2 separate regions of the Homo sapiens genome follow, and region 2 is linked to region 1. The links come from fine-mapping of genetic effects on gene expression. A gene starts in region 1. The other region holds a variant in brackets. All regions are shown on one strand. Distances are from middle to middle.

The links. PIP is the estimated chance that this variant, and not a neighbour inherited with it, causes the effect.
Region 2: its variant is the best candidate, but not a certain one, in a credible set for the expression of LINC02208 in thyroid (GTEx, PIP 0.62).

What each region holds. Positions count from the first base shown.
Region 1 is chr5:118,557,752-118,567,149 of GRCh38, forward strand. It overlaps LINC02208 (long intergenic non-protein coding RNA 2208), which reads right to left and starts at 4,366. Exons shown (of 10, transcript NR_104610.1): 1 at 4,170-4,366.
Region 2 is chr5:118,606,253-118,615,650 of GRCh38, forward strand. It overlaps LINC02215 (long intergenic non-protein coding RNA 2215), which reads left to right. Exons shown (of 5, transcript NR_104998.1): 2 at 3,487-3,625; 3 at 5,108-5,175; 4 at 8,041-8,099. Among named protein-coding and RNA genes, the nearest start is that of LINC02215, 15 kb to the left of the region's middle. The variant C/T (reference allele first, on the strand shown) is at 5,161.

The sequences.
Region 1 (9,398 bases):
CAAGACAGCTATGTCCACAAGGCATGACCTTCTGGAGAGAGCCGCACCTCTGAAGGTGAACACATTAATTTGATGACAGTTTCTTGTTCAGTTCAAAACACTGGCCAAGGACATCCCTTTAAAATTTATAATGAAACTAAAAAAAAATTATCCAGCCAAAATTTTACCCCATTTCATTAAATTTTATAGTCTTCATTAATTACAGGGTCATACTCAGAAAGCAACAAGTAGGCTACAAGAAGGAAACAGGGGTGGAGGTGGCAGAGCCCAGTAGACAATTAATTGACTGTACTTTGCAATTCAGGACAAAACATTTTATTTACTTGTCCCAACACATACTTAGCCTGCCCTCTGGGCTTTCATAGCTCTTTCATTCTGGAATCCAATTCCAGAGTTTATGGCCTCCAAGGTTTATGGTCCTTCCCAAGGAAGCTCTCTTCACCTATTAATATGCATCATGGTTCTTCTTCTCAGAAGGGTGGTTCTTGTGAAAGCTAAGCAATTTTTATGTAATACACACCTGAATGGGAACTTTACAATGGATTTGGGTAAGACTTTTGTTTTTTGGTGTCAGTTTTACCTGTCGTTATTAAAGAGGTAAAGAAGAAAGAGGGGAAAGGAAGAGATAAAAATAATCCTACTGTAATTTTCATATCAAATAGAGTCCCCTATTGCTTGTCTTGTGGTTTCTGGGCAGACTATTGGTCTGAAATTCTAGACCATTAACAGTTCATTTGTCTATACTTAATTTTACAATGACACCAGAAAGAACAGCAAAAATAACAATGAAGAAAACTCACAGGCCTATTGCTCTGAAACTAAAGTTGCCAGTCATTTTATTTCCCAGCATTTCTCAAGCCCATTTCTTCATTCACCAGCAACTCACCCACCATTATTAGAGAGGATTTTTTACCACCCAGGAAAGCAAATGCTGTCATCCTGATTTTACTGCTCAGAAGATACTTGTCAATTAAAATCACCTCCAGGTCTTAGCTAGGAACAAAGACCAAATTCCAGAGATTCCCCTTGTCTTTCCCAAAATAGAGTTAGAGCTCATTTCCTAAATTTGTTCTGCCATTTACATTTGGCCACACTGCAACTTGTAGACATGGGGTTACTATTCACATATTAAAACTTGCTTATTTCCAAATAAACATCTGTAACTTTAAATGCTCATATAGCCACTATATAGATTTAACTAATTCTAAGATATATCTTATATCTTATGTAAGATATATCTTGAGTAAGCATATTAAACAAATGCCTTTTCAAGTAAGAACTATTTTCATTGCTGCCTTCTGGTTTCTGAGTCATCTCTGTCTCACTCTTATAACTACATGTCTCCCAAAAGCCACCTAGTACCATAACATACGTATATATTTATAAAATGCTAGTAACATTTCATTCCTGCCTCTTTGATATGAAGGTCTTGGAAATACATGTTTTCTCTGGACTGCTGTTTTTAACAATAATAGAAAGAAAGGAGTAATAACAATCATGGCAAATATTCCTTGAGTTTTCATAATGTACCAGGCACTGAGCTAAGCATCTTTCAACATACACAATCTCACTTAATTCTTAATACTCCTGTCTAGAAGGTAGGTACTATTATGATTATTACTATTTTTTACAGAGGAATAAACTAAGGCATTTGCCTGTGTTCCAGGGATAGCCAAGGATTCAAACTTACATCTTTCCAGTTTCAGCATCCAAGCTCTAAACTGCTATATACCAGGGCATAGAAATAGGACTACCAGCCATAGCTTTGATTCAGAGGAAAAAAAAAAACAAAAACATGGCACAAATGTGTATAACATATTTAGATAGTATAGTTTAAAACTACAAATATTTTTTCTCTTTGCCAGTATAATACATGCATAATTTGTGAATTAAAACTTAATTGAGCGCACCACAATTGGAAAATTACAAAATACTTAAAACTTACATCAATTCAGCCTCCATTCCATTATCAAGAGAGAGGCTGTTTATGCATTCCTATTCTGGCAATTAAGGACAACTATGTTTTCTAAAGTGAAGGTTATTTTGACTTTGATAAGTATATAGCTCACTGTCTGATCATAAAGGGCCAGAGCTGAAGATGAATAACAGAGTACTTTGTCCTTCACTTCAGGCATGATGGCTGGACCTCTGTGGTTGTAAATCTTCCAATATTTGATGGCCACAGTGTCAGCAGCAAAATGATGCATAATAAACACAACAATACATTATATGCCACTTCTTGATTTGGTGCCAAGTCAGGGAAGGAAACAGTCTACTTTTGAATGGGTGTTCTGAAATAATACATAGACAGTGTGTATTGGAGAGATCTGAAGAGGAAAACTCAAGCTGGTTTTTCATCCCACAGTCTCCAAACTATTATTCTTTGAAACTGACTATCTGGAGTGATGTGAACCCCTCTACCACCACTGTTGGGTTGATATCAGGAAGCACAGAGTCCACAGGCTTTCATCTAGCCAGGAAAAAGGAAACAGAGCTTATTTTGAACAGGAAGGAAAAAAGATATGTGATGAAAGTCAAAGAAACAAGCTGCCTAAATCCTTGACAAAGTAGAGATGAAAGGAATGAGCTTGTGAAATAATGTGGATACCTAAAAATCATGTTTCAATCATGTTTTTAATTGTCCATTCTATCCAGAACGTTTGTTGCAAAGTCTAAAACCTTCCTTTACAATGAAAAGAGAAAATACCGTTCTAAGGCATGCATCTATAAAACGGTATTTCTCAGGCACTAAGGAAAATGCAAGCTCTAGAAAAGGAGTGATGTGGGAGAGGCACACATGGCTTCAACTGTGACAGCTGTCTCCCCATGCAACCAAATCAGAGACTGCTGGTGCAAGTGGGGACCTCAGAAGTCACTGGGTCCAACCCTGACTTTTTATAGATGACAGGCTTAAAACTGTTAAGTAACGTGCCCAAGGTCATGCTTGGGGTTGTATTGTCTGAATAACAAATGGCAAATGGACAAAAACAAAAGAGATCATAGTCTAAGTTACTCAAAGACTTTCTATAAGGAAAATGGTGGTAATTATGGTCCCTAAGTCCACTTATCTACCAAAGCTTAATATAAGACATCCAAGAAATATATATAGATACATATATAATCTATATATGTATGATTGTGTGTGTATACATATATGTATAGATATGTATATGTGTGTGTATATATATATATATACACACACACACATTTCCTAAAGCAGGAATTTTTTTTTTAAATCAGATATTCTGTGAGACATACTTGCTTTATTCAGTATCAGTTTAGGGTTTCTCACTCAGTTGTTCTTTCTAGAAAGGATATTTGTAAAGTCCAGGATTTATTCTCAAGGAGTAAAAGCAAAACCAAACATTTGTGTCCCTTTCATTTGAATCTCATGTCGAGTCTGTAAGTGCAAAAGCACTTACATATCAGTCAACCAAATTCTTACTGTCAAATCTAGATGTACAGAGCTTGCAATAGAGAAATGTAGATACTTTCTAGTTTCTCTGCATTCTACCATCTTACCCCAGGAGCTCAAAAATGACTCTACCCTTTTCTGGAAAATAGTACAAAGGAAAATTCCTGGGTTGTTTGGCTTCTCATAGTCCCAGAACTTGGGCTATATCTGAAAGTTCCAGTTGACATCTGTCCAGCACTGAACACTGGCTCCAATTCACAAGATGGCCTACCCAAGACTAATCTCCATCTACAAGTACCCTTGGAAGATGGGATGGACTCCATACAGGCCAGAGGCTGTGCATGCTCCCTGCAAATCTTGGAACTTCACCCAGGAAACATTAAGGTGGACATTCAAAATGGTAAAAAGACTCCTTCTGGCCTAAGCATCCCCTCACACACCTCTCAATGCCATAACTTACCCATAAAACAATCAGAGTTCAAGACGATAATTATTTCCCTAAGGCCAAGTTCACTATGATCTGGTCTCCAAGAACTTCTCGTTATTATCAACTACTGTGGGCCAATCCCAACTATATAATCTTTATAAGTGTTATATTCATTCATATTTCTATAAGTAATATATCTTCTTATTGCCTGCACCCTGGGCAAATTGCCTTCATATTTCCCACTCCCACCCCAGCCTGGAGAAATAGGCAACATTCAAATTGTTCTCTCAGCCCTCATCCCTCTAATGATCACCAACAAAATCCTACCTGCAACCAGGACTCTCACTTCGGAGTATAGTTTCTGAGATAAATCAAAATTTTTCTTCTCCTTCTTCCCATCCTTTCTTGGTCTTCATTTCATACAGATAATAGCATGTAGAAAAAACATGAAAGGAAAAGTGATATTCACTGAAGAGCAACTCAAGGCATATGTGTGGACACAGGGAGAGGCAACCCCTCCCAATCGGGTGGGTGTGGGTGATAGGTCATGTGTGTATAACCTCAGATCTTTGTTAGCACCAGCAGCTGGAACACACTTCTCTCTACAAATAGCAGGCTCCTGGAGTTTCTCAGCATCAGCAACAAGAGAACCTGTCAAAGAAGTGGGCCGGAGATATCGCCCTGCTTCTCATACACATAACTGAAAAAAAAGCAAAAGAAAAATATCATTTCACTGCCAGCCTAGTTTGAGTCTATATATATATATATATATATATATATATATAGTATATATATATATATATATATATACTATATATATATATATATATATATATATATATAGACTCATATATATATATATGGGGGGCAATTATGTGTACCGGACTACAGTACTGGCCAGACCCCATGAACACCTAAGGATGAATGAGGCCCAGCCCCGCCCTCACGGATATAACAATTTAGACAGAAAGATTTACATAAACGTTCATATGACTAGCTACAAATTCCTAAGCCAATGTCCAAATTAATGTACCAAGAACAACCCTAAAATAGAATAATTTTTATTTTTTCTTTTAAATAAATATTCCACGTGAAAGCTATCTATTTCAAAACACTTGCCATAATAAGGCAACACATTCTAATTCACAGTTCTGTTTTTCAAGTTTTGAATCTCATTGTAACTGCTTTCTGAGTAGTTGCGCAAGGAGGGGGGAAAACAGGAGTGGGGAAGGGAGGAGTATTTTCTCCCTAAAATTGTTTAGAATTATAGACTTGTGATGGTAATACAAAAGACACTGTATCTTAATCAGTTCTATTTCTTTAAACATTTCTATAGACAATATATCTTCTTATTGCCTGCACCCTGGGTAAACTGCCTTCATATCCCCCGCTGCCCAGCCTCTGCCTGCCACTGTTTCTGAAGGGTGTATTCATCCCAATAGGCTCAATGATGTCCAATCTATTCTTTTCACCAGATGCAGAGTCAAATCTAATGAATAAAACAGAGGGTCAAGCCTGGCAATACTACTATAGGGCAGAAAGCAAGTATGGCTTTACACTGAGAGTGTGGTTGTCAAATGCTGCCCCTGACAGCAATACCACCAGAAGAATCACTTCAATGTTTTAAGCAAAAACAGAATTGTTGAAATAGGTGTATAATCTCCTATGTTAATCTAGGCAGACCATGAACAAAAGACTGCAAAATCTCAGTGATACAATGCAAAAAAAAAAAAAATCAATTTCTCACCCCTGCTGTATTTTTCACATGGATTATCACAAGGACTCTACTCCTTGTGATATCGCACAGGTCTAGGCTGACACAAGCCCCATCTCAACATTTGCTTCCATGATGGTGGTGGCAGTGTAAGTGGATCTTTTAAAGCTTTCTCCTGGGAGTGACACAAGTCACGTCTGCTCACATTCCATTAGTTAAATAAAGTCACATGGCATACCCAACTTCCACAGTGTTGGAGGAGTAGAACCGTGCCAGGTTTTTGGCAGGAGAAAGGCCAGAATATTGGTGGGTAGCCTCTGACTAACGCCTCCCATGTATTATCATTCCTTAAAGAGGCCAAGAATCATTTGCATGTAAATTTTGGAAAATTAGTTTTAAAAAACATCCTCACTATTATATGGTCACTACCATGTGTTAGATTTCTTTACATGCCAGAGCTACAACACAGTTGAAGAAGCCATTTATTTTTATTTTTATTTATTTATTTTTTTACCCAGGCTGGAGAGCAGTGTTTTCATCTGGGCTCACTGCAACCTCCGCCTCCCAGTCTCAAGCAATTCTGCTGCCTCAGCCTCGAGGTACCTGGGACTACAGGTACACACCAATACGCCTGGCTAATTTTTTTTTTTTTTTTTTTTTTGGTTGAGCTGAGATTTTGCCATATTGCCCAGGCTATTCTTGGACTCCTAGGCTCGAGTGATCCACCCACCTTGGCCTCCCAAAGTGCTAGGATTACAGGCGGAAGCCACCACACCCAGCCTCAAGAAGCCATCTTAATGCTTGTGGTTCACTTGTAAGGTGCAGGCAGGTTTGTGAGAGGCATCTGTATGACTGACAGGGGATGCAGCGTGGCATAAAGGAGGTAGGAAGGAAGCTGCCATTCCAGGTGGACTCACCTGTGCCAAGCACTGCTTTACACTGTACACACAGTATCTCATTTACTCATCCCAACAGCCCTGCAAGGTAGGTGTCACTATCCTCATTTAAAAACTGACAGAAATGGAGACATAGCTTAAAATACACTGTGCCAGCCAATGTCATGGGTAATAATGTTCAAACTCAGATCTGCCTAGTTCCAGAAGCCATGGAGTGGGTCACGTGAGGAAGTCCAAATGATACAAATTCCCTTATTACTTTATCTGCATCCCTTTTATAGCCCTTCTAATGAGGCAACTGATTTTAAAATGAGAATGTGCTAAGCTCTCTAAGAATAGGGACTTAGCTCCATTCATCTTTGTCTGACTGGTAATGACTAGCAAATACTCTAGCACATAGTAGGTGCTCAAGAAAATATTAATTGTTAAATGCATGTTGAAAGTCAAGGCTATGCTCCAAAGCAATATTCCCTTTCTCTTCTCCTGCACAGCACATGAAAGGAGATTGACAAGATGAAATGTTTCCTTAGTGATTCTCAAGAAAGGCAAAGCTGTCAACATTTTCTTTTGTCAAGAGTGTTCACTAAGCAAGAAAATAGAGAGTAGCTCCCACAACGCAGACCTGAACGTGAAGATAATGGTCAGCAGGGCTCTGCAAGCTGTCTGAGTTCCCACTCCCAATAAGCTTTCGATAGGAACTTGCCTGCCAGAGAAACAGAGGGAACCTCATTTTGCTAGGAGACAACACACAGCTGCATAGTTCCATACTCCGCTTAATCCCAGAGACAAATTCACAAGTTGTCCTAAATGTATCACTCTACTGGGAACTCTTTTTTCTTTTCTATTTCCAACCAGTGTCTGCCATTTGATATATCACAAATAAATCATGTTTCTCTCTGTCTGTCTGACACACACACACACACACACACACACACACACACAGGCACACACAGAAATACACACACAACCTTTCTATCTTAAAAAGGTTACATTCATTTTGGGTCTCCTCTAAAACTGCCATGCAGGCCACTGGAAGTCACAACATGATATTGTTTCTTTACAAAGATACTATGATTTTCTCCTGTGGTGAAGGATTACTGCGGGCACAGCTCCATCCAAGAATCCTTTCTAAGCTTTTTCTTTTAAGCACATAAGCTATGCTTTTAATTGGGCATTTCATTAGAGTAGAATGAGGCGTAAAGGAAAACAAAATGGTCTGTAGTCATTTGTTTCAAGGAGATCATTCCAGTCATCAACGTCTGAACCCTGCCGAAGTCGTTTCAATTTTTCTTCTCAACCATGGATAAAGCAATGTTGACAACACATATTTCTCTCTGTCAAAACATTCCACTTACTTGGCAATCTATAGACAGTTTGAGAGTCGTAGCACCAACAAGCAGCGCTGGAGCATTCTTCCTATTATTTTAAAATCAAAATGGCACGTGCCTCGTGAGAGGGTTACCATGTGGGCCGAGATCCAAATTGAAAAGAAAAACGCTAACAGAGTCAGCAAGTAAACAGGGCACTGTAAATAACAAGCCTCATTACTTAGCCACAGAGAAAGATGGGCCAGCCTGCGTCCCATTTCATTGTGAGGGCTTGATCCTGTTGCCCTTAGATTTCAGTCTCCTGGGAGGCCACTCCGGGATTTCTGTGAGATGTGTGCTCAGTTAAAGTACCAAGCTTAGGTTCACAATTGTGAAACATGTTTCATACCATGGGATCTAAGTAAATGATGATTTTTGGCTGGGAGTGAGCAGAGGAAAAAGTAAAATCACTGGTTAAAGAATTGTATCCAAATACCAGAGAAAGATGGGCCCTCTAGATGTGCCTTACATAGGACAAAGAACGGGAGACCAAAATTAGACACACACTGACAAAACTGCTTATGGATCCCACAGATGACTATGGTGTAATCATCTCAAAGTGACTCATTTTCAGTGAGAAATATTTAAAAGAAATAATGCTGGAGAAAATGGCAACGTGCTGCCCAATAATGGCCTCAGGCTGCAAGATAGATACTGCAGGGCATCCAGGCCACAGCACTGGCAGAAAACAAACATTGAAGCAAAGCTGAAACACTTATTGTCAAGGCCAGAGAACATTTACCAGTCAGGAGGTTCAGATTCATGGGCATTATTGTTAAAGCTCGTGGGAGAAATACACCCAAAAAGCAGCAAAGAGAGTCGATAAAAACCCTCCAAGCAATCACCAGCTCACCAATCGGCAGCCACACATCTCCCCAGGCTCTCAGGGGAGAAGGCACTTTACCAATTACTGCTGATTGGCTGGGTTAGTGAAATTGCTCAGACCTCCTACCATTCACCTCCAGCCTATCTTTCAATATATCTTGCTGGGGTTTGCTGAACTTATTTTCATCCATTTATAAAAGGTCAACTAGGCTATGTGTTGACTTGACAGTAGTAAGTGCTTCTCCTATAATCCCTGATGATATTAGTCTGGCGGGGTTTCACAAGTGTGCGGTTGATCTTTCTTAAAAAATTCCATGATTTGCGAAGTTGGTACCAGCTGTTATCACTTTAATAGAGATCACTGTATAATTTCAAAATATCTTACTTTCTCTAAAACTATTCTGATGCTCAAAACTGTCTGGAGCTCAGAAATGTGCTTCTTGCTTCTGTCTCTTAAATGGATGGGTTAATTAACTGCAGTCATCATGCCATTAAGCTGGGCTATGACCCAGGGATCAGGCTTTACCAAAGCCGCTGCGTTCCGGAATGTTCCTATAGACACACACAGGTATGGACAAGGGGGTATGTGATGATTAATATTGAGTGTCAACTTGACTGAAGGATGCAAAGTATTGTTCAAGATGTGGTTTCATTGCTTGAGCAAATTAACACATCTCCTGGTACCTGGTATGCAGCCATTGATTTGGCAAATGACTTTTTCTCCATGCCTGTCCATAAGGCCCACCAGAAGCAA
Region 2 (9,398 bases), 49 kb after region 1:
ATAACTTTTTCTGATTTTTAAAAATGAAACCTATCAATTTTGTCTAGATTTTCCTAGAAAAATAATCATAGTTACACAGCTGGTATTTAAACTTCTATAAACCCTTACGTATATATTTCATTGTATATATTTAAAACATTGTATATATTTAAGACACAACAACAAAGCACTTAAGAACATAGCTATTTTCTCTGAGATATTCGACCTATTATTTGGATATACAACTATCAGAAAGAGGAGGAGTGCATGGTTATGACATCAACATTGGATATTCAGTTCTCCCGTAAATGTGGTGAATTCAACAGAAGAAAAAAAAGGAAGGAGAGAAGAAGGGATACCTTTACCTTACTAACTCTTTTCACTTAAAAAAATAAAGCCTCAATATTAAGATCACTAAAATTTATTTTAAAAAGTATTCCTAATCTCTTTATACTGTGTTTTAAAGACATTCAGTTAGAAAGAGATTTAAATAAATACAAATATCTGCACTACTATTAGTTTTATTTGTTATTAAGTGTCAACAGCTCAAACACTGCTTCTCACCCTGGGATTCTACCCCAGGTTTGGACAGACTCCTCTTTTAACTTGCCCTGAATTAACCTGGAGACCAAAGTTTGCCTGGGTGTCTTCACACTTCTAGTTCCTCTAGAGTTGCTTTATATGAAAAGCCCTTACAAACTGCTTTCATAATGTCAAATCATCCTTCTCCCAGTTTTTTTTTTTTCATTTAAAAAAGAGACCTAGCTAATTTAAAATTAGTCCTAAATAATGTATTTAATTTCTTCATATAGAAGGAGAGCCTAGGCATCCTTTCTGCTATCAGCACTCACCAGAGTGAGCATGTGTGAGCTCGCCCTGTGGGTGGCACCTGAGCTGCAATGAGTGCTCCAGCGTGCCTGACTCTGAGGCCCGAGCCCGTGCTGCACGTGTGGTACCCATGTTCTGGACAGCTTGCCCATCAACACCAGGCCTGACATCCTTTCTGTGGGAAACAGACACATAGAGCCAAATAGCATGTCTCGGTAGTCAGTCATTAACATGAAATCTCATGATCGCCATTTTATAAATACAAGACAGTCATTTCTACTTCTTTTTATCTTATTTGTAGCTTCAGCCTGTTCTTTTTCTGATTTAGATTGAGTAGGTCCTGTAAACAAAAGATTAGATACACAACTGATGTCTGAAAGAGTTTAGAATTATAAAAACAAGCTTTCTAAAACTTACCATTTAAAAATACATTGCATCATGAATTAGAAATCTCTAAACAATGATACAATGATCTCATCACCAAACAGGGATTTCCTGAGCCTTCCTGGCTAACTCGGATGTTACTGAGAAATACTTCTTCCTTTCTCCTTATATTTCCCTCCTGTGAAGCATGCTAATCAGTGTAATCCCAGATCACTTGTCCCAGTCTCACACTACTCCTAGGGACCAGGTAAAATGGGGGCAGTAGAAGGATGCAAGACTCAGCCCCCTTCCTTCTTCTGTACAACTAGCTTTATCTGAGGAAAGCATATGTTTGGCATAAGTTGTGTAGGGGGAGGCCTACCTCACTCTAATGCTAACTGGATTTGAACGGTTATGTCTGCCTAATTCTGGAGTTCAATATTAACCTGACCATTTCAATAACAGACTTTATATTTGATATTTTGGTATCTACATTTTCTCTGGTTTTTTGCCAACTTATCCAAAACCTAGAAAGGCAAGAGGGTTTGTTATGTTTTTAATGGGGGCACCAAACTTATGTGATACAGCATATACTTAGGAATTTAAAAGGTTCCCCCTTTAAATAATACAAGTTTAAAAAACATGTATTATTAGGCTTGAAGACTTTGTGGATAACTGGAAATAAATGTGCATTGTTATATTCTGATGACTAGAAGCACTCATCTGCAAGGAAATTGTCAGTAAATTATGAATTGTGTTATATACATAATTCAGCATTAGAATGTTGGAAACGCAATCACACTATACAGATGATTCACACCTAAACCATGGTGCATTGAAGAAAACTAGTGTGCAAAAGAACTGATTTAAAATACATTGTCCTTTCTCATAAAAATAACGTTAGGGTTCAATTTGTAATCCCAACGTGAAAGACAATATCAGATAAATCAGAGCCCTGATCAGTAAATATCTATTCAAATAATTCAAAAGAAATAGGTTAAAAAGATCCTTTGGAACTACTCACCCCAAGTATATTCTATGAAACATGAATCTATAAGATGTTTCATTCAATATAAAAAGTTTCCTTGATCAATGAAGCTTAGGGAATAAATTATGCTATTATCTCTCCTCCCGAAGCTTTACAATGTAGACTAACATATTAAAGGCTCTGTGAAGCCCAGCATAATTTGTTTTAACCCAGCATTCATCAAACACGTCTAATTGCAGAACATTATTTTCAAGTAGCATCAATTAATTCCCATGGAACACACTCTGGGAAATGTTATAATAGCAAGTATTATTAAGATGTAACACCCAGGCTGGGCGCAGTGGCTCACGCCTGTAATCCCAGCACTTTGGGAGGCCGAGGCAGGTGGATCACGAGGTCAGGAGATCGAGACCATCCTGGCTAACACGGTGAAATCCCATCTCTACTAAAAATACAAAAAACTAGCCGGGCATGGTGGCGGGTGCCTATAGTCCCAGCTACTCGGGAGGCTGAGGCAGGAGAATGTCGTGAACCCGGAAGGCGGAGCTTGCAGTGAGTCCAGATCGCGCCACTGCACTCCAGCCTGGGCAACAGAGCGAGACTCCATCTCAAAAACAAAAAAAAAAAAAAAAAAAAGATGTAACACCCAAATTCCATAAGGAACACTGATAGATAGCATATTGCCCCAGTTCTTGCACTCTTGGTGTTATCTGAAATGCAGGGGTAGGACTCACACTCCACAGAGTTTCATCAATGAATTTAAGTAGCAGCAAAATTTATATAATGCATATATCAAACATTACATTATGAGACTGCATAAAGACTGAGACTTGAGACTATCTGGGCACTTTACATGTATAAAATCCATTCACCTCACCAGCAATCACTGAGGTGGGGACACTGGAACGAACTTGACTCTGTCTTCCAAGGACCTTCATTGCATTCCTTGAGTTAGAATTAGCCAAGGATTTTCTCTCAGCTTTTTCCCAAGAAGGCCATCAACTTTCCTTCCTGCTACTACCACACCTGCCTTTCTAGTTGCCCAGATTGTAATGTCTCAGCTTCCCACCATCTGGATAATGACAGGCCATATAGAAGTTGTTAGTTGTCCACCTAACTCTCTACTGCAGTGGGAATTTCTTTAAATTCCATCTGCGGTTATCTATTCTGAGAGTCATGGTTCCCAAACTGTTTGCCAAGGTGTTCTCGGATACTACAGTAATCTCACAGGTAACTTATGTATATTATTTTTTCATAAAGCTGTTAAGTTGTTAGGTATAAATACTTAAATTGTTTGGAGCTATGTACTTAATAAACACAACTGCTAGGTTTTTCTTTTGGCCTAGGCGTGACTGTGAAAAATATACTGAATCACTAAGGGCACTAAGTTTCTGAAAGTGAGAAAGTTTGAAACCATCTGCCTCAGAGGTTTACAGAAAAGAAAATATCTAAGAGATTTCAGCCTAGGTAAGGAAACATTCATCCACAGATTTATCTCCCCCTTTTGTTAAAAAAAAAAGAAAACTAAAACTACCATAACAATGTTAAAAATCTAAAAAGTTAGTATTATATATGAAAAGATAACTCTCTACTGATATACTGAAACCAAAAAAATAACAAAGAAAGAGCTTTCTAAGTGTATAAAAACTTTATCTCTATGTCAGAGAAAATAATTCAATGCATTCTCCATTTTGAGTCTGAGGAATAAATAAGCCAACGAGAGATAAATACTCACTTTTAATGTTTTCAAGGAGAGAAACCAGTGAAAAGATGGTTCAACTCTGATGCACAGAAGCTGGATGGGTCACAATTGCTACAACTGGCATGATACCTATCTCCTGAAACCTGTTCTTTCTCCTTGGTTCTCTTCAAGGTCACAGTACCCTGCCACTCAGGCAGCTATAAGAATAGTCCCCAAGGAGTGTTAACATCTTTTAACTCTAAGCCACATTCCTCCCTAAAGAAAGTGTGCCTGAATTTGTGAAAGTCTGCATCCTGGAGCCAAGTACAGGAAACCAAGAAGCTAAGAAAATATTCCTGCCACTATTTCTATCTTTAATGCATAGCTTTCCATTCTTCTTTAAGTTCTCAGGGTTAAGGAGCTCAAATAATGTAAGGAGAACAAAAATGAACAATAAATTATTGAGTTTAGTCTGCAAATCCACCCAAGGCATGAAGATTTCCAGAACCCTGCCTAATGTCACCAGAGGATAAGAATCTTAATTACTTACTCCAGCAGTCATCATCTTCTTTCCATTCTCCAGCCTATTGTTTTTCTTCCCTTGATCAACTAGTCACATCCATCATCAAAGCCTGCTCCAATGACCTCTCTCTCCTTTTATCAGCACTCATGCCTATCAATCTGCAAATACTAGCACTACATTACCAGCTCGCTTCAAAGATTTCACCATGATCTTCTATAGGCATTCACAATCATCCATTTGAGTTCCAAATCTTAGAGAAACTATTAGAAATTTTATGTATCATCTTGTAACCCAACCCCTTGATTCTTCAGATGATGGAAATGGGTAACATTAAATGACTTGCCTGGGTTCACATAGGCTCACACAGATTTGGGGAAATATAAGTGTAGAATGTATAGAATCTACCTCTTCTATCTTGCTATAGGACATACTTTTTTCGTAGAGATGAGGTCTCCTTATGTTGCCCAGGCTGGTCTCAAACTCCTGGGTTCAAGCAGTCCTCCTCCCTCCTGCCTCCTAATCCCAAGTGCTAGGGTTACAGGCATGAGCCACCATGTCCAGCCACTATACTTTTATTAAGTCTCTAAAATAAGCCCAAATATACACTGAATATTAATGCATTGTAGGGATCATTTATTGCTGCCACAGCACAGGGGGTTTTAAGAGGGTTCAATTCAGCTCCACGATAACACCGTCCCATTCAACTGATTGATCGGCGCCCCGCTACCATCTTCTGGTCTTGCAGATATGCTGGAGTGTTGTGATACGAGGATGGACGTTCACATGGAGTAAGTCAGT[C/T]ACTGTACTGGACAGGTATGTCCCCTGATGGAAGGACACTACTCTAGCTGCCATTAATAAAATCTTTCCTGTATGTCCATAGGAAGGAGAGTTAATCTAGTCTTTTTGGGCAGATGTGGACAGGGCACCCTCTGGTGACAGCTGACCAATATTGCAGGTCAATACAAGAACCACAAAGATTCTGGGTGCTGAAACAATGACACTACTCTTCATAGTCTATTCTTGATGGACCTTTGTTTCCATGATAGAAATCTTCTCATCAGGAATTTTTCTTTACAAAAGTGCCTATGATCCCATTGTCCCAGAAGCACCAACCCCCAACTTTCTCTCGGGGCTGTGCTGTTAGGAAGCATGACCCAAACCCATTCTTTTCCTAGGACCCATGGTCTCTCTCGCCAATTTAGAGGATCTTTCAGACACAGGGAAAATTTCTTCTCTATGTTTATCAAAAACAATTTTTCTGTGCCTATAAATTCCCTTTTCTTTAGTACATAAAAGGTGCCTTGAAAAGTGTCTGATACACAGTAAGCACTCAACAAGCGAGCGGTTATTATTCTTTCTCTGTAGTCTTTTATAATAGGCCTTGATAGTGCAAGGCCTTGATTACTACCAGATCTAGAGCCAATCAAAAACTAATAATATCTGATGTTAATTAAATATTTAGTATATGCATACATTGGTTTAGTTGCTTTATATGTATTAACTCACTTAATACCCACATCTATCAGAGGTAGGTGTAACTTTTATTCCCCTTTTATAGATTATAAAATTGTAGCACAGAAAAAATAATTTTCCCAAAGCCACACAGCTAATCAGTGCTAGAGAGGGGATTTGAACCTGTGTGGTTTATCTCCAGGGCTCATGCCCTTAATTATCACACGAAACAAACTTTCTAAATCTCCCTTTCCTTGAAAGCAGAAAGAACTTGTACTTTAGACCCTCAGTGAAGCAAAGAATGGAGTTAAGCTTATATTAAAACTATGTTCCTATTAGTCCACACATTAATGATGAGGGGCCCCAAAGTATTGCAGCATATAAAATATGCAATTCTACTTTATAATAATTTTGAAAATTCTAAATAAAAATTTTTGGTTATAATAAACATTAATCCAACAGTTGATTAACAATACTTTGTATTGCCTTTTAGGATTCATAGTGTTACAGAAACCAAATTTTCACAATGTTTTAAATGCACATTTATTATTTAAAAAATATTTTTACACTAAGTACATTGTTATATGTGGTTTTGTCCAAACCCTTTAACTTTTCCACTTTCCCTGAAAGAAAAGTTAGATGTGAAATCATTTCCCAGTGCATATTTATCAGAAAGTTTTATGCCTAAATGATATAATCCAATATCTAGAGTCATTACTTTGAGAAAAATATTGATTTTAACTGTAAATGCCTAGCATTAAAAACATTAATAAGGGTTTAAAATTTATTCATTTGACTATCATGATCTGATTAACCACAGCTCTAAAAAACACTTAATTGTATGTTTCTGGGTTTTGGGGTTTTTTTTTGGTTTTTGTTTTTTTTTTTTTTTTTTGAGACAGAGTCTCACTCTGTTGCCCAGGCTGGAGTGCAGTGGCATGATCTCAGCTAACTGCAACCTCTACCTCCCAGGTTCAAGCAATTTTCCTGCCTCAGCCTCCCGAGTAGCTAGGATTACAGGTGCCCACCACCACTCTCAGCTAATTTTTTGTATTTTTAGTAGAGATAGGGTTTCACTATGTTGGCCAGGCTGGTCTCGAACTCCTGACCTCAAGTGATCCACCAGCCTTGGCCTCCCAAAGTGCTGGGATTACAGGCCTGAGCCACCACGTCTGGACTTAATCATATGTATTTTAACTCATGGCACCTAATTCTGCTATTAGATTTAAAGACATGTCTATAATGCAAAAATATCAGCCTAGATACATGTGCACTAGCCCCTACTGACATTTTCAACTGGCAAGTTGTCAAAATAAGGCCCTTCCAAGGATTCAGAGTCCCATCAAGCATATGTGCATCAAGCATCAATGCCACAGCAGGCATTAGGATCATGTATCTGGGTTCTCCTGGTATTTTAGATGCTCAACAGGCCACACCAATGCAACATAACCTAAATTTCACGTGCCCTCTCCTCCCAAATCTCCTCAACCTCCATCTGCTCTGTTATCATTAGCTCTGATGGCCATGGTAGAAACCTGTCAGATATGCTTCCCCTTCCCATCACTGGGTACCTAGCTTAACGAGGTAGAACTCACAAGTCACCAGTTCCTAAGGGTTATTTTTCCCTAAGAGCCCCCAAACTCAGCTTCCCTTGTCCTGATCTACCTTTGCTCAGATACTTGTAATTTCTACATGAATTTCTACAGCAAAGACCTCCCTGAGTTCGGGCTTATACTAATTGGTATATACACAGAATATTTTTGTTGTTGTTGTTGAGACGGAGTCTTGCTCTGTCGCCAGGCTGGACTGGAGTGCCACGATCTTGGCTCGCTGCAACCTCCACCTCCCAGGTTCAAGCGATTCTCATGCCTCAGCCTCCCAAGTAGCTGGGACTACAGGTGCCTGCCACCACACCCAGCTAATTTTTGTATTTTTAGTAGAGATGGGGTCTCACCATGTTGGCCAGGATGGTCTTGATCTCTTGACCTCGTGATCGGCCCACCTCGGCCTCCCAAAGTGCTGGGGATTACAGGCGAATGATATTTCTTTTTGTGGAAAATATTATGAAACTAACAGTTGCACAGTATTGAAAACACCTGTGTAACACAGAAGACATGTGAGGAAAAGTGAGTCTCCAACTCACCACACTTCAGCCCGCTTACTAGAGGCCATTACTTCTGTATCCATGAGAAAGTTCACACATGTTTTCTTTCTCTTTTAATACAGATGCAAACAAAATGTTGAACTTGGCCTTTCTGGTCTTCACCTCTCTTGGGACTGCTCAGGTAAGTGCAGGGCCAATGATCAGAACAGCCACTCCTTCAAAATGCACTTATGGTGCCCCTTGCCACTGGTCAACGATCTTACAAAAGTCAACTTCCTCCTGGACATGAAACAGCTTTAACTGAAGTGGTGAAAACGGCCTCCTTCCTTAGGTTTAAGAAGAGAGCACATAGAGGTGGAAGGTTTTTTCCTGGAGAGGCAATTTAGCTTATGGATTAAGTACACAGACTCTAATTTGGACAATTCAGGTTTGGTTCCTGGTTGTATCACTAATACACTTTGTGATCTTCAGCACAGACTAATGCAGGCAGAGGTTATAATCTCTTGTGTGCCTTTGTTTCTTGTCGGCACAGTAGGAATGATAACAATAGTATCTACTTCATAGAGTGGATATAATGATTTAAAGAGTTAATATTTGTTATTTGCTAATAACAACGCCTGGTGTATACTAAGTATTATTAAAACGTCTGTCATGTAAAATTTAAAGTAGTCTGCGAAATGCATTATATAAACACATACCCTGACTCAACGTGTTCCCACTCAGCTTTCTTACAACTCCTCCTCCACATCCTATCTTTGTAAGTAGTGGAACCACATGCAAAGATCACAAGTTACCAAATTAATCATTTCATGGTGTGGGTAAAATTTCAGTTTAAATCTTCAGTATTTGGATTTCAAATTAAGTGTATGATTAAGCATTAATGGTGTGTGATGATAGTTAACCTTAAAATGGGAAATATTTTTACAAAGAAATCTTTATTCCTTGTGAGCCAGTGAAAAATTATTTATTATGTATTAAATTTTTGCTGCTGCACAGCAACAGCAGATTGATGAGCTGTTACGGGCTGAATTATTCTCCAGGTTAAAGGTGACTTTTGGTTGTATTAATCACCTAGTGTAAAACTAAAGTAGACACGAGAGAGCCTTGCTTCTGACAACCCCCTGCACAGCCCTGCCCAGCCCAGCCCAGGCCAGCTTACTCGTTGTGAAAGCCGGTTCTTTTCTTGAAATGTTGGGTAAACCAAGGTCCCACTAAGATTGTCTTCCTTCATCCTGTACTGTCCATCAAGGTTCCTCATTTACACCGACTTTAAGTTTGAATCAAAAATTAGATTGAAGTTTAAAATGTCATTTTAAGCCAAAGAAAAGCCAACTTATCATTCTGAAAATTCCTCATGTAAAGAACGCTCCCCTCAGGAGCACAGCTCCACGCCACTGACCTGTTCTTTCTCTTCCTCCCCATCTCCTCCTCCACTTGACTCTCTTATGTGGTCACTTATCCACAGAAATTGCTATCACCC